Linked DNA regions of Homo sapiens: region 2 is linked to region 1. The links come from fine-mapping of genetic effects on gene expression. Tissue or cell type: whole blood. Region 1 holds a variant in brackets; the other region holds the start of a gene. All regions are shown on one strand. Distances are between the middles of the regions.

Region 1 (8,102 bases):
CTCCAACATGGGCTTTCTTGCAGACGTAGCATGAGCTTCACCTGACTCGTTCAGGTTCTGTGTCCCAATTAATGAAGGCTTAACTGGGGAGAAGAGGGCACTCTCACTGCCTTGGTGGCTCCTGCATGCAGTATCATTCCCGGGACCCTCCAGCTCTCTCCTCGCTCTGCTCCTGCATTCACTTCACAACGTGGCCCAAGTGCAGGTGGTTTTGGACCCATTTTCTGGCCTATGCATTTATTCCTTAGATGTCATGTCACCATCTTAGATTTAGCCCATTTGTAACATTTAATGTTCTCTACTTGCAAGGGGAATAGCAACAAATTCTGGCTGTGTGTGGTTTTTTTGTTTTTTTTTTTTGTTTTTTTTTTGTTTTTTTTTTTTTTTTTGAGGAATTTCTTTGAATGGTAGCTCTCAGAATACGAAGAATGTTGAACAACCAGGACACAAGTAGGACAGGAAAGAGGATCATTCTGGGAATCCAGGTAGCAGGAACCACCCAACACACTTTACAGGATGCTGCTATCACGAGGCATGCGCTCTAACTCTGTTCCATCACTCGACCCAAGATGGCAGTTCTGGGAACTAGAGAGGCTGGCCGGCCGGCCTGCGTTGCATGCCTGCCCCTTGGCAAGGAGGGAAGCATCTTGACGACAGTTCCTGCAAGGCTGCAGCCAGTGGGGCAGGCAGAGCGAGATGCTGCTATCGAAAGGTGAACAGATTGTTATCAGGGGAAAACGTTGCTATCCATGCTGATATCTTTATGTCATACCTCGAGCAAATTCTGAAGATGAAGGAAGCCGGGATGGGGAAGATTTAGTGCATTGTGCAGGGTAAGTGTGGTCAGGCTCTGGCAGAGTCTGTTCGTGGCTTGCTTCTGAGCAGCAGAGCCCTGCGGCAGGTAATCCTGAAGGCAGCTGTGCAGCCAGAGTGTGGCTGTATTATATATTATACGGCATATAATACATAGAACATCCTGTCTGGCAGGGCATCCTCGGTGGCTCAGTACAGCCACCAGACGAGTGAGCCACCATGCCTGTTGCTGTCTTAAAATATGACTTTTTCAGTCATCCAGCTATTATTCATAGCATGACAGGCACTGCTAGATGAGGCAAGACATATTCTCCTCAGAGAAGCAACAGTCTAGTACTCCGATGGGGGAAGTACAGGGCTCTGTGTCAGTGCCTGCTCCAGACAGGGAATGGGCTTCCGGGAGCAGGAGGTATCCAAGGTGAGTCTAGAAGGTTGAGTAGGAAAGAGTTTCTCCAGCAAACAGGCAGGTGGTGTAGGCATAGGGCCTTCCAGGCCGGGGCAGTAGCAGGCCGGGGCTACATGGGGAGTGGGCATAGTGTTCAGAGCCGACCTCACCTGGGGACAGGCTAGGACTTATGGAGTATATGTGGGTTCAGTGCTCACCACCCCACAGATAATGCCAGGGACCAGGCTTCGGCAGCAAGACGAATTCCAATGTCCACAGCTCGGGAGGCTTCCCCGCTTTTTGCTAACTGGGAGCCTCAGCTGCCTCCCTTTTCCTTCTCTCCTTGGGTCCTCATGGACTTCCTCCAGACCTGGCCCAGGCTGCTTGTTTCCCTCCTGGTGGCCACGCCTGGTACCACAGTGCTCTCCAACACAGGGAAAAAGTCCCCAACCGGCAGATAGGGACCCAGCTGTATACATCTGGAAAGTGAGCCAGTATTAAGCAGGCATATTTCCCAAAGACTTGTCATGGCACAGATTTGGTTTTTGGTGGGTTGACTTATATAATGACGAGTCCTGTAAACTCGAGTCCTGTGAATGAGCAGTTACATCTAGCAAGCCACGTTCCAAGTCACCTATGTAGAAGTACAGGCACCAGGACTGCCCTAGGATGTTGCAAGGATCAGACTGTGCTGGTGGTGTCCCTTCAAGGGACCAGACCCTCAGCCCTGTGGGGCTTTACGCTGGGACAAAAGGTACACACTATTAAAGTGTTAGCCTGTCAACATTTCACATGCCCTCCCACCAGGAACTTCCTTCCCAGCACACACCCCTTTGCTGGGGTTTCTCTGATCACTCAAGACCTCTCACTCTCTCCAGACTTGACTGCCAGCACTTCTTCCCTAGACCCCCATCAGCCAGCCAGCCACCACCTGCCATGCTTAACCCCCATGTATTGGGTATCCCCAGAAGTCAGGCTGTACCTTATTCCCCAGGAAAACAAAACAAAACAAAAAAAAAAAACAAAAAAACAAAAAAAAAAAAACAAGAAGAAGGCTGGTTGCAGTGGCTCATCCCGGCACTTTTTAAAAAATTACCTGGGCCGGGCACGGTGGCTCATACCTGTAATCCCAGCATGTTGGGAGGCCAAGGTGGGTGGATTACCTGAGGTCAGGAGTTTGAGACCAGCCTGGCCAACATGGTGAAACCCCGTCTCTACTAAAACTACAAAAATTAGCCAGGTGTGGTGGCATGCATCTGTAATTCCAGCTACTCAGGAGGCTGAGACAGGAGCATCGCTTGAACCTGGGTCACAGAGTTTGCACTGAGCCAAGATGGCGCCACTGCACTCCATCGTGGGGAGCCGAGTGAGACTCTGTCAAAAAAAAAAAAGAAAGAAAGAGAAGGAAGGGAGGGAGGGAGGGAAGAAAGGAAGGAAAAAATACATGAGAACTGCAGGAGATTACTTTTTACTGCAATATGCAATTTACTGAAGACACGAACTGCTCACATGGAGACGGTTAGCACCATATGGTATTGTAAGCAGATACTCACACGCTTGAGCTCATCACAATAGCAACAGGAGGTGGAAATAATTACAGTGGTATAGTCTGTGCTACAGTTAATTTTATGCAGTTATGATTTAATACTGCATCCTTACATTTGTTTACATTTCTCTTGACCGCAAATGGCAATGGCACTGTGTATTATCTGTGTGTACATATTTCGATAAATGTTAACTTTTGAAATAGATTTGTGTATATTTCATCAAAATATTTATAGAGAACAATCTGCATACAAGAGAACCCATACAGTTAAAATTGTGCTGTTCACAACCGAGTTAGGTGGCTCACGCCTGTAATCCCAGCACTTTGGGAGGCCGAGGCGGGCAGATCACTTGAGGTCTGGAATTTGAGACCAGCCTGACCAACATGGAGAAACCCTGCCTCTTCTAAAAATACAAAATTAGCCAGGCGTGGTGGCACATGCCGGTAATCCCAGCTACTTGGGAGGCTGAGGTAGAAGAATTGCTTGAACCCAGGAGGCAGAGGTTATGGTGAGCCGAGATCACGCCATTGCACTCCAGCCTGGGCAACAAGAGCAAAACTTCATCTCAAAAAAAAAAAAAAAATTGTGCTGTTCAAGGGTCAATTTATAGAGACACACAATTGATTTTTTTGTGTTTATCTTATATCCTCAGTGTTGCCGAAGAAATTACATTGTTTGGTTTTGAAATATTGAAATAACCTTGCATGCCTACAGTTAACCTCTCTTAGTCACTGTGTATAATTATTTTGTATATTGCTGAATTCTATTGCTATTTAACATTTTAAAAATAGGCTGGGCATGGTAGCTCATGCCTGTAATCCCAGCACTTTGGGAGGCTGAGGTGGGAGGATTTCCTGAGCCCAGGAGTTCAAGGCCAGCCTGGGCAACATGGCAATACCCAATCTCTTTAAAAAAATTTTTTTAAATACATTTGTTTTTGTTAGAGATGGGGGTCTTGATCTGTCCACCCAGGTTGGAGTGCGATGGTGCTCTGATAGTTTAGTGTAGTCTCAAACTCCTGGGCTCAAGCAATCCTCCTGCCTCAGCATTCTGAGTAGCTGGGACCACAGGTGTGTGCCATCATGCTTAGCTAATTTTTAAATTTTTTTTTTTGTAGAGACAGTATCTTGCCATGTTGCCCAGGCTGGTCTTGAACTCTTGGCCTCATGTGATTCTCCTGCCTCAGCCTCCCAAAGTGCTGGGGTTACAGGTATGAGCCACTGCACCTGACCCAAATCTTGAAAACATGTATTTAAGGCCGGGTGTGGTGGCTGACACCTGTAATCCCAGCACTTTGGGAGGCTGAGGCGGGCAGATCACCTGAGGTCAGGAGTTCGAGACCAGCCTAGACAACATGGTGAAACCCCATCTCTACTAAAAATACAAAAATTAGCCGGGCATGGTGGCAAGTGCCTGTAATCTCAGCTACTCGGGAGGCTGAGGCAGGAGAATCACTTGAACCCGGGAGGCAGAGGTTGCAGTGAGCCGAGATGGCACCACTGCACTCCAGCCTGGGTGACAGAGCAAGACTCTGTCTCAAAAAAAAAAAAAAAAAAACCATGTATTTAGAACTCTACCTAGAGATAAAGAATATTGCAAAATAAACTTTGGTGCTTCACCTGACCTCGTTTTGGGACCATGTTGTGGACAAACAACAGTCTAACAACCAAAAGTGTCTAAAGTAATTCTAATTTTTCAGAGATCCCCTTCATAAGCCATAGGAATGTCTCTTATACTTCCCACCCTCAAGATGGTTGTATTAGACAGGGTTTTCCAAAGAAACCGAACCAATAGGAGATACATAAATATAAATATAAATATAAGT[T/TAA]GTGTGTGTGTGTGTGTGTGTGTGTGTGTGTGTGTGTATGTGTGTGTGTGTGGAGAGAAAGAGAGATTTATTATAGGAATTGGCCCAAATGATTACGGAAACCATCAGGTCCCATGATCTACCACCTGCAAGCTGGAGAATCAGGAAATCTGAGGGTATAATTCGGGTTGAGTATGAAGGTATGAGAACCAGGAGCACTGATGTCCAAGAACAGGAGAAGAGGAATGTCCCAGCTCAAATAGAGAAACTGAATTCACCCTTCCTCAGCATTTTGTTCTTTTCAGGCCCTCAGTGGCTTGGATGACGCCTGCCCACATTGGTGAGGGTGATCTTCTTTACGCGGTATTTCAATTCAAATGCTAATCTATTCTGGAAACACCTTCACAAACACACCCAGCTATGTGGACATCCCTTAGCCCAGTTAAGTTGATATAAAAATTCACTGGGCACAGTGGCTCACACCTATAATCCCAGCACTTTGGGAGGCCGAGGTGGGCAGATCATGAGGTCAAGAGATCAAGACCATTCTGGCCAACATGGTGAAAACCCCATCTCTACTAAAAATACAAAAATTAGCTGGGTGTGGTGGCACGTGCCTGTAGTCCCAGCTACTCAGGAAGCTGAGGCAGGAGAATTGTTTGAACCCGGGAGGTGGAGTTTGCAGCCAGCCAAGATCGTGCCACTACAGTTCAGCCTGGCAACAGAGCGAGACTCCTTCTCAAAAAAAAAAAAAAAAAATTAAGCATCACAGAGGTGTTTTTAATAAGTACTCCTGGGTCAATTGAAAGTCCATAGTCCATTCAGAAAAAAAATATTGACTTCTACATTACTCCTACAGAGAAATCAATTGTAGATAAATTGTAAATGGTACGATAATAAAGCTCTTTTTTTTTTTTTTTTTTTTTGGGACGGAGTCTTCCTCTGTCACCCAGGCTGGAGTGCAGTGGCGCAATCTCGGCTCACTGCAAGCTCCACCTCCCAGGTTCACGCCATTCTCCTGCCTCAGCCTCCTGAGTAGCTGGGACTACAGGTGCCCGCCACACCGCCCGGCCTTTTTTTTTTTTTTTTTTTTTTTGAGACAGAGTCTCACTCTGTTGCCTAGGCCGGAGTGCAGTGGCATGATCTCAGCTCACTGTAACTTCCACCTCCTGGGTTCAAGCTATTCTTTTGCCTCAGCCTCCTGAGTAGCTGGGACTACAGGCATGCACCGCCACACCCGGCTAATTTTTGTATTTTTATTAGAGATGGGGTTTCGCCATGTTGGCCAGGCTGGTCTTGAACTCCTGACCTCAGGTGATTTGCCCTTCTCGGCCTCCCAAAGTGCTCAGATTACAGGTGTAAGCCACCATGCCTGGCATAATAAAGCTTTTTAGAAGAAAACAGGAGTATGTCTTAATAGCCTTTGAGTAAGCAAAGATTATTTCAACAGGACACAAAAAGAACTTTTATTCTTCACAAGATATCCTTAAAAGAGTGAAAATGCAAGCCATAGAATAGGAGATATTTGTAGTACATTTAACTGACAAAGAACTCATATTCAGGATATCTAAAGAACTAAAAATCAGTATGAAAAGGATAGAAAACCCAATTTTTACAAATGGGCAAAGGACTTGAACAGACACTTCACAAAAGAAAACATCCAAATGGCTAAAAAACATTAAACATTGTACAATCTCATTGATCACCAGAAGTACAAATTGAAGCCGCAGTCCAATACTACTACATCTGAATGGCTAAAAAAAATTTTGTAAAAAACAGAAAATGTCAAGTATTGACTAAGACAGCCAAGTATCTAGAAACAACCCAAATGTCTATCACAGGTAGAACAGACAAATAAATTGTGGGTATTCACACAATGGGATATCATACAGCAAGAATGAAGGAACTACAACTAGGCAGTGCCCAGCTTAGGTCCTGTCCTCTCAGCCCAACCCCCGGCAGAAATAGAGCCCCTTTTCCCAAATGGTTTCCAACATTAGCATAGTTTCATTACATGGAGATTTTGTATTTGCAAATTCTCCTACTTGCTAAAATTTATGTGTGACTCAAAATTAATACTCTTGACACTTTCTCAGCATTTTGGGGTCATTCAGGGTCATATACAATGTAGTGAAAATTTGAGTTATCCAATACACATTCCCAGCTGAGGTCAAACAAAGCAACACTTTGCTGTCTTGTTTCAGCTCATAATGTAAATATGTCCCTCAAGGTCTATTTAGTGCCATGGTTTTTACATTTTTGTGCTTTTTGTTGGTGATTTCACTGTTTTATTTATTTTTTTATATGTTTTTGAGACAAAGTCTTTCTCTGTCACCCAGGCTGGAGTGCAGTGGCATAATCACAGCTCACTGCAACCTTGACCACCTGGACTCAAGATATCCTCCTGCCTCAGCCTCCAAAGTAGTTGAGACTACAGGCACACTCCACCACACCCAGCTAACATTTTTATTTTTTGTAGAGATGGGGTCTTGCCACATCTTGAACTCCTGGGCTCAAGTGATCCTCCCACCTTGACTTCCCAAAGTGCTGGGATTAGTGCTGAGATTACGGGCATGAGCCACCATGCCCAGCCCTCTTTGAGCCACTTGATATCTACCAATAACTTTCTTTCTGCTTAAATCAGGTAGAATAGATGCTGTGGATCACAATTAGGAACCAAGCCTAACAATAGAAGATCCAACAGTTGCTAATGGATCATATCTACTCCACGTGGAAGAATAGGAAAACCTGGACTCTCTCTCTCTCTCTCAGGTCCTTCCTGTCAGCATTTACGCATGCTAAATTGATCTCATCTTTTAAAAAATTCTCTTAGCCATATACTCTCCTCCACCCCATTCTCTCCTACTTGTCTCAAATAGATAGATGATAGATAAATTTGGCTTTGTTGTGTTTTGCTTTTTTATAAAAGTAAACCAAATTCAGAGGACAGGCTAAACATCATCTGTGTTGACTGGACACAGATGAAGAGTGAATTAGTGAAATGAAGAACTGAAGATAGAGCTGAAGAAATACTCAGAATTCAGCACAAAGGCAAATAAAATAGAGGTATAAAACCTACAGGATAGAATAAAGTATGAAGTCTAACATAGGTCTACTCTGAATTCTAGGAGGAGCGTCTAGAGTAGACCTTTTAAAAAAATGTTTAGAGACAGAGTGTTGCTATGTTGCCCATGCCCAGCTCTTTGCAGAGGTATTGGCTGAGTCGTTTCCAGAATTCATGAAAGACGCAAATCATTCAATTCATAGGTCCATGTAGGATAATAAGTGATCCTGGAAAAAAGGTTTGGGATGAAAGAAGGAGTTGTGTGCCAATGAATTGATAAGCAAGTAGGTATATCAAACATTAACTGCACAAAAGATAAATAATAATGTTTAACTTGAGGGAAGCTATGAAAAATAACTAGATAGAAATAAGATAATGGACTATATGAGACAAAAGGGGATGATTGGTATGAGGAGAATGGTAGAGAACTTGAATAATTTTAGATTTTAGATAAAGTATGCATGTCAAATGATTAATATTCTAAAAGAG
Region 2 (8,102 bases), 290 kb after region 1:
ACAGGCATGCACCACCACGCCCGGCTAATTTTTGTATTTTATTTTATTTATTTTTTTTTATGAGACAGAGTCTCGCTCTGTCACCCAGGCTGGAGTGCAGTGGTGCCATCTCGGCTCACTGCAAGCTCCGCCTGCCAGGTTCAGGCCATTCTCCTGCCTCAGCCTCCCAAGTAGCTGGGACTACAGGCACCAGCCACCACGCCTGGCTAATTTTTTGCATTTTTAGTTTCACCATGTTAGCCAGGATGGTCTCTATCTCCTGACCTCGTGATCCGCCCGCCTCAGCCTCCCAAAGTGCTGGGATTACAGGCATGAGCCACCGCGCCCGGCCTAATTTTTGGATTTTAATGGTGACGCGGGTTTCACCATGTTGGCCAGGCTGGTCTCGAACTCCTGAATCCAAGTGATCTGCCTGCCTTGGCCTCCCAAAGTGCTGAGATTACAGGCACGAGCCACCGCACCCTGCCTGGAAAAGTACTTCTTAAAGGGAAGGCAAGAAAAGGGTGAAAAAAAGAAAAAGATTCTCCAGTGGTGAAAATTTGGGTATAAGCACCAAGTAGGAGGACACGTGTGGGGAAAGGATCAGGGGAAAGGGCTCTCAAAGCCAGCCATTCAGACTTCACCCAGTGAGGGCCCAGTGCAGCCCCCAAACTGATGTTTCAGCTCCCAGCCTACCTGAACCTGCCCAGGGGCCAGGGATGGCCAGCACAGCATCCCCAGGGGACTCTAGTGCCAAAATGGCCACACAGTCATGCCCATTCCACATCCATCATCCCCAACAAAGAACTCCAGCCCCAAAGTGCTCGTAACAAAGAAATTTTAATGCATAAGGCACAGTGAGAGGCTGGAATCATTAAGCATCCTCAAACACAAAGGGCCCAGCAGGCTGAGCAAAAGAACAGAGACACTCTCCCTCACTACCACTGGGCGCCCTGGACAGTCCCCTGAGGAGTAGGGGGCATCCAGTCTTTGGCACGGTGCCTGGGGGCAGGAAGTGACTAGCATGATCCCAGCTACCCCTCTGTGGGAATACTGCCACCAAGAGGCAGCTCTTTGGTCTGGATAAAGTCAGTGCAAATGTCCAGGGGTCAAGCTCTGGAGGAATGAGGGTGGCACAGTGCCCTAGGGCTGGGCAGTCTCTGAACAGTCTCCTCAGCCCTCATGGGCAACATGTGGGCTTCTTCTTGCTGGCAGTTAGGTAGAGGTTGCTGTCATCACTGTTGATGCCTAAAGAAGGGTGGAAAATATGTGAAGCAGGGATTGGAGGCTCACTGTGCCCTCTGCCACCCTCAACCAGGCAAGCACTCACGGACAACATCCCCAATGCGTCGAGCCCCCGATTTCTCCAGCTCAGCCAGCACATTGGCCTCAAAGGTCAGTGCTGCCACACGGAAGAAGAATTCTCGGACATTCTCACCTGACACAGAGAGCAGATAGGTGCTCAGGGGCAGTGCTGGGTCTGGGGACACAGGGCACAGCTGGAGGTGTAGCAGTGAGAGGAGAGCCAGGCAAGAGTGTCACAGCAGAGCCCTAAAGCCTCCAACTCACCAGTGAGAGATGAGACTGCCCAGTACTCAGCCTTCATCTCCTGGGCCACCTGGAGGGCGTCTTTCTCCATCAGCGCATACTGAGCAGGGGTCTGAGGGAAGGCCAGAGTCAGAGGGGGGCATTCCCTCACCAAGCTGGGAAGTCCCCCCACTGGCACACTCACACTCAGATCCTTCTTGGAACCTACAAGGAAGAGAAGCACACTGGAAGGGTCATTCTCCTTCAGGGCATCGGCCAGCCACTGCCTGCCATGGGAGGTGGAAAGTAAGGGATGAGTGAGTCTGCAGGGCCCCTCCCACTGACATTCATAGGCCCAATTACCCCCTCTCTGGTCCTACATGCATTCTTCTTCTTCCTGACCACCCCTCTGTTCTGAACCCTCTCTTCCCGGAGCCTCCCATTATATTGCAGGATGCTCACTTACTTGGTATGTTCCAGAGATGCCACATCATTCAGGTTGAAGACAATGATGATGGCTGGAAGAGTGGCAGAAACAGCCCCAGGTTGACAGGGAAGACACTACTGCTCATTTCCCCAATCCTTCCAGCTCCATATGAGAAGCCATGTGCACTCTGAGACCCACCTACCCCACTTCACCCAGCCCCTTACCTTGAGCTCCTCTATAGTAGGTTGATGCAATGCATTTGAACCTCTCCTGCCCAGCGGTATCCCAACTGGAAGGAAGGAAGAGTGAAGCACAGGTATGTATCTTGGGGGGTGTGGGTGCTGGGGAGAAGGGATAGCTGGAAGGGGTGTGGAAGCACTCACAGCTGCAAACTGAAGGGAATGCCCAGCACCTCAAATCGTTCCATCTCGAAGTCCACTCCAATGGTGGCCTTGTAATTCTTATCAAAGGTGTCTTTGCAGAACCTGAGAGGGTACCAGATGCTGTGATCTGGAGCCAGCCCACCTGGCTAGGCTTGGCCCCACCCTGCCCAGCTCAGCTCCAGCACCCCCTTACCTATTAATGAGGCAAGTCTTCCCCACCGACAGGTCCCCCACCACAATGACCTTGGAGATCTTAAATCTGCTGGACACAAGAGTGGGCAAGGGGAGTGGGCACGAGCTCTTTCACCCTAGGGAGTTCCAATGCTCCCGACTAGGTCCAGAAAGGTAGCTGCACCCAGGCTGAGGGTATTATAGACACCAGGCATCCCAGGCAGCTGCGTGGACAGGTGTGCTGGGGAGGAGGAGTGTTTTGTGCTCCAGAAGCAGAGAGACATGAATTTGAATCCCAGCTCTCACACTGATTAGCTGTGTGACTTTGGACACGTTATTTAGCCTCTCTAAGCCTCAGTTTAAACATTTAAGTAAAGTTAGTATATATTTTACTGGGTCGTTGTGAAGGTTAAAATGAGATAAATGTCCTATATTCTAAGACACCCTCCCCCCCGCATTTTAATGTCTGAAATCAGGATATATCTTAAGTGATGGACTTTTCCATTCAATAAAGATGATAGTACCCAACACTGCCTGGCACACAGCAAATGCTTAATTAATGGTGCCAACTGTTATCAGTATTACCTTTAAAACCCACAATAAGACTCATCCCTGTAAGCACAGCCAGACCCCTGCCCTGGGGCTCCATGGATGCTATGTGGGGATCTGAGCAGGTGACCACCTTCCCATTTCAGACACCTTAGTCTCTACTCAGAAATCCAGCTGCCACCCTTCTACCCAACCCCATCTCATAGAACTCACAACAACCTTGTTGGGAGAAAAGGAGGGGATACAGGGGCTTAAAGAGGGGGAAATAACCATATAGCTGGTAGGGGCTGAAATGAAGCCCCAAGGGGGTGGTTGTTTACCCTCGCTATGACTACAGAGTTTCCTGGGACCTCCTCTCTTTGTTGTGGGTGTCCCTAACTCACCCCACGGTGCCTGTCCGGTGCTCCTGGCAGGCGCAGGTGACGCGGGGGTGGAAGTCTTTGTGCCCGTGCAAAGCGGCCTCCTTCCTCAGGCACTTAGTGGGAAGGATGGAAGAGAATGGAGCTTCCTACTCCTGGCCCTTGTCCCGCAGCCAAGCGGCCCGGGTAGGGGTGGAGTGCAGGGACCACCCAGAAGCACCAGGCCTAGCTGGGTGGCAGGGCTGGGCCCAGTCCTCTAACTGGTCTGGTGCCGCCTCCTCCTCGCCCACACCCCGGGCTGTAGACTGAAGCCCGACGTGGCCCCGGCGCCTACCTGGGGCAGCTCCGCCAGGACGCGATCCCTCCGCACGGGTGCCAGAATGTTCATCCTGCCTGCGGCCTTGCAGGGCGCCCTGAGAAGGCGCCGAGGCCGGATCCGCGTCAGCGACCCGGGCGCGTGGAGACCCGACGATCACCCGCGGCCGGGGTGTCCCGACTACAACTCGGGGCCACGGGGACCCTACGGGAGTCCGCGGTCTCGGAGACGCTACGACCACCGCGGGCCACGGAGATGAAACAATCACCCGGGGCCGCGGCGAGCCCAAAATCACCCGGGCCCTGGGCGTCCCGAAGATGACTCTGGGGCGAGGAGACTCTTCGGCCGCCAATTGGGGGCGGGGAGTCCCGTCTGGTGGGGGCCGGGCCCGCGCAGACCCTACGATTACGCGGGGCCGGATAGTTCCTACGATTACGCGGGGCCGGATGGTTCCTACAATAACCCGGGGCCGCGGAGACCCGACGTCATCTCGGGGCTGAGGCTGCCCTACCATTACAGAGCGGCCCGGGGGCGCGGAGCGGCCCCGCCACACGGGGTCAGTGTGGGCAGGGGCGGCGCTGCCAAGGCCCGCAGGCCGCTGGAGGAGGGGGCGAGGGGCCCAGTCCGGCTACAGGGCCTCGAGTCCCACTCCGCTCGGGCTCCGCCAACGCTGTAACACGATCCCCGGAAATTCCTGGAGAAGGGCCGCCCCCCGCCCCTCTCCTGGCGGCTCCAGGCCTCGCTGCCCGCCCTCGCCACCCCCTCCTCTCCACCCTTCTGCGTTGCCCCGCTCAGGCTCCCTCTTTTGACGCTTCACCGGGCACCAGGACCGCCCCGACCCAGGCTGGAGCCTATCCAGATAGGGACTCCCCAGGCTGCTCTCCCCTGCACCTCTATACCCGGCTGCGCCTTCATGGGGACCCTTACCCAGCCGAATTGGTGATGGGGAATCGGAGACTGCTGCGCAGCATCTGGCGATGCCAGGAACCAGCAGGGAGGGGAAAGGGGGAGAGAAGGGGCCCAAGGAGAGGCGGCGCTTCCCTCCTCAACTCCAGGCCTGGGAGGTGACTCATAGAGTCTGCCCCCTCTCGCCCTTCTGCCCTGGGAGGTCGGGGGTGAGGATGGTGGAGGGGAAGCGTGCGAAGGGGGTGCCAGGGTTAGAATGAGGTGCCCACCGAGGAGAGAGACGTCTGAAGTCTGGCGTCTTTTCCTTCAAGGCTGCTGTGTAGATTGTGAGGTGGGAGGGCTGAAGATCAAGTTCCCTCGAGGGAGGTTAAAGAAGGGCTAAGTGGACCCGGAAACTCTGCTCTTCGGGGTGGTCTCCGCTCTGGGAGGCGGGGACTCCCCTCTGGTATGGGTGTTCATTGTTCTGGCCCCATTGGAATCTATCCCCCAGGGACAACTCCTTTGTGCAAAGTCCTGCAGGATAGAAGAGGGGGCAGTGCACAATCAATTTCACCGTCAAAGGGGACATGTCTGGTTTTATGAAGGGAGAGGGAAGAAGAAAGGATCAAGTGGGGATGGGTTAGGCACACACCTTAGGAGAAGCGAACCTGAGTGTTAAGAAACCTTTCTCTGTGTCTGGAGCTGAATTTGAGGATGTAAAGATGACCAGGACACGGAAGGGAAGACTAGTTTAGGGCAGGGGATTGTGAGTGAAGTTACTAACCGGAAAAACTAGCGAATCTTGGAGAAATGTGTGGAATTTTCATAGAACTTCAAATGCATTATCAGGAAACGCAGTAAAACTTGACAGTATCAGTGTCGCAGGTAAAGAGGGGCAGGTGTGGCCGCCTTGTACTTCCTCTGACACTTCCCCCTCGTGACTCGATTATTTATTTATTTATTTATTTATTTATTTTGAGACAGGGTCTCACTCTGCCACCCAGGCTGGAATGGCTCATTGCAGCCTCGACCTCCAGGGCTGAAGCGATCCTCCCACCTCAGCCTCCCAAGGAACTGGGACTACAGGCACGCACCACCACGCCCGGCTAATTTTTGTATTCTTTTGTAGAGACAGGGTTTCGCCGTGTTGCCCAGGGTGGTCTCGAACTCCTGGGCTCGAAGCAATTCGTCCACCTCGGCCTCACAAAGTGCTGGGATTACAGGCGTGAGTCACCGCGCCCGGCCCTGACTTGATTTTTTTCTGCCACCAAATCACTGTGTTATTGATAAACCACATTCCTCTCTGGACCTCAGTTCGACCGAGCAAATCCTGCTCCAGCACTCTAGAACTTAGCTGTATCTAACTCCCGAGTCAATCCAAATGTGTTCTTTCCTCTTGGCAGCGTTCCTGCCTCCTGGCATGGCAATCCTCTTCCCTGAGACTGGCAGTTGCTCAAGATAGGAAGCTCCCGGGACCAGACCCGAGCGCCAGCCGGCTACGCCGTCCGCTGGCCTGAGCAAATAAACGCGTGTCTTCAAAAAACTACAATCCCCATGGTGGCACGCGCCTGTAGTCCCAGCTACTCTGGTGGCTGAGGCAGGAGAATGGCGTAAACCCGGGAGGCGGAGCTTACAGTGAGCCGAGATCGCGCCACTGCACTCCAGCCTGGGCGACAGAGCGCTCAAAAAAAAAACAAAAAACAAAAAACAAAAAACTACAACCCCCATGAAGCTTTAGTGCCTTTGAGGGGAGGAGTGGCGCATGTTTGTTCACGCACGAAAAAGAAATTAAACCTAACTACCGTTCCCAGAGGGCGCCGCTCTGCAAATTACCCAATCAGCTCTAAGTACAAAGCATCGCGAGTCTTTAGTGCTCTTTGGCGCTATAAGCCCGTGGGAACGAGCATTGGAGACCCTTTTCACAAGATGGCGCCGAAAGCGAAGAAGGAAGGTGTGTGTTGGTGATGGGGCCGCAGCTGGTTTACCGGGGATTGCCGCGCCGCAGAGCGAACGAATTGGGAACACGGCTGCTGGGCTAAGCCCTGAGGGCTCTGCTCCGGGGCTGCTCCCTGCGTTTCGGACACGCTGCAGTATACGTGGGCCGCGTGGGCCCAGCCTCGTGGGCTGAGTTCCGGTAGAGGGAGTTGGGGGGGGGCAACGCGGCAGGCATCATCCGCCAGGGAGGGCCAGACATTCGGTTCTGGGAAGCTACATGCATCCACTGGTTGGAGCTCCATGTCCCCGGGCCTGTAAGGAATTAGTGCCCTCAGCTTTAACCATTTTCCTTCTGGTTCATGTTCAACCGGGCTACATTACCCGCCCCTCTCTCCGCAGCGTGGTTTTGCGATGGGGTATGTGTAAAATTCGTAGGACATTTTCTGGAAAGTATCAAGCGTTCATTCAGTGCTACTTTGTTTCATAGTCGTATCCCTGGAGTTACTTAGAGTTGGTCGCTTTCGCCTCTGGTATCGTGCATATGATGGAAAAGTTTTAATCTCCTGACACTTGTGATGTCTTCAAAGGAACCACTGATGCACCTGTGGCCAGGGTGGCCCACTGCAGTTCTTGGGGCCGGAAGTGACCGATTTCTAAATCCCGCACCCACGTTTTCTTTCCTTTTCTCCCAGCTCCTGCCCCTCCTAAAGCTGAAGCCAAAGCGAAGGCTTTAAAGGCCAAGAAGGCAGTGTTGAAAGGTGTCCACAGCCACAAAAAGAAGAAGATCCGCACGTCACCCACCTTCCGGCGGCCGAAGACACTGCGACTCCGGAGACAGCCCAAATATCCTCGGAAGAGCGCTCCCAGGAGAAACAAGTCAGTACTGCCCCCTGTACCCATGAAAAGATTTGGGTATTCTCCATTGGTAATTTGGAAATTCACTCACTCTGCGTGATGGTTTCTCAAACGCAAATTGTGTCCAGTGTGCTTCTCTAATTGGAAGTATGAGGAGATTGTTTCTGCTGCATTTACAAAACTGGCAGGATCAGCCCAGAGGCCGGGCGCGGTGGCTCACGTCTGTAATCCCAGCACTTTGGGAGGCCGAGGGGGGGCGGATCACTTGAGGTCAGGGGTTCGAGACCAGCCTGAGTGACATGGAGAAACCCCGCGTCTATTAAAAATAGAAAATTCGCCGGGCATGGTGGCGCATGTCTGTAATCCCAGCTACTCGCGGGAGGCTGAGGCAGGAGAATCGCTTGAACCCGGGAGGTGGAGGTTGCGGTGAGCGGAGATCGTACCATTGCATTCCAGCCTGGGCAATAAGAGTGAAACTCTGTCTCAAAAAAAAAAAAACCCTGAGTCTCTCAAAATTTGTTAGGTTAATTATTGCTTCACATGTGGTCACGGTTTGAAAACTTATTTTGGGGGGAGTATAAAGTAGAATACAGAGATTCCTTGCTCATAGCTCCTACTGCTATCGGGAACAATCCTTGAGGGTGAGAACGTGGATTGATTCTTGATTGATAGTGGGGATTCCATTATCTGTATTTGGCAGTTATGGCCTGCTGCGG

The links. PIP is the estimated chance that this variant, and not a neighbour inherited with it, causes the effect.
Region 2: RAB34 starts here. The variant in region 1 is fine-mapped to the expression of RAB34 in whole blood (INTERVAL, PIP above 0.99).

Annotation. Positions count from the first base shown.
Region 1 is chr17:28,424,799-28,432,900 of GRCh38, forward strand. No RefSeq gene overlaps it. Among named protein-coding and RNA genes, the nearest start is that of SLC46A1, 23 kb to the left of the region's middle. The variant T/TAA (reference allele first, on the strand shown) is at 4,571.
Region 2 is chr17:28,713,484-28,721,585 of GRCh38, forward strand. It overlaps RAB34 (RAB34, member RAS oncogene family), which reads right to left and starts at 4,385. Exons shown (of 10, transcript NM_031934.6): 1 at 3,730-4,385; 2 at 3,420-3,511; 3 at 2,510-2,575; 4 at 2,317-2,418; 5 at 2,158-2,222; 6 at 1,973-2,024; 7 at 1,712-1,793; 8 at 1,549-1,639; 9 at 1,310-1,417; 10 at 801-1,227. The coding sequence starts at 3,783. The coding sequence ends at 1,160. RPL23A (ribosomal protein L23a) reads left to right here and starts at 6,502. Exons shown (of 5, transcript NM_000984.6): 1 at 6,502-6,547; 2 at 7,224-7,407. The coding sequence starts at 6,523. SNORD42B (small nucleolar RNA, C/D box 42B) reads left to right here and starts at 7,067; the gene lies at 7,067-7,133. RefSeq lists a silencer at 4,218-4,477 and enhancers at 5,158-5,758, 5,759-6,360, 6,017-6,066, 6,497-6,716, 7,057-7,216.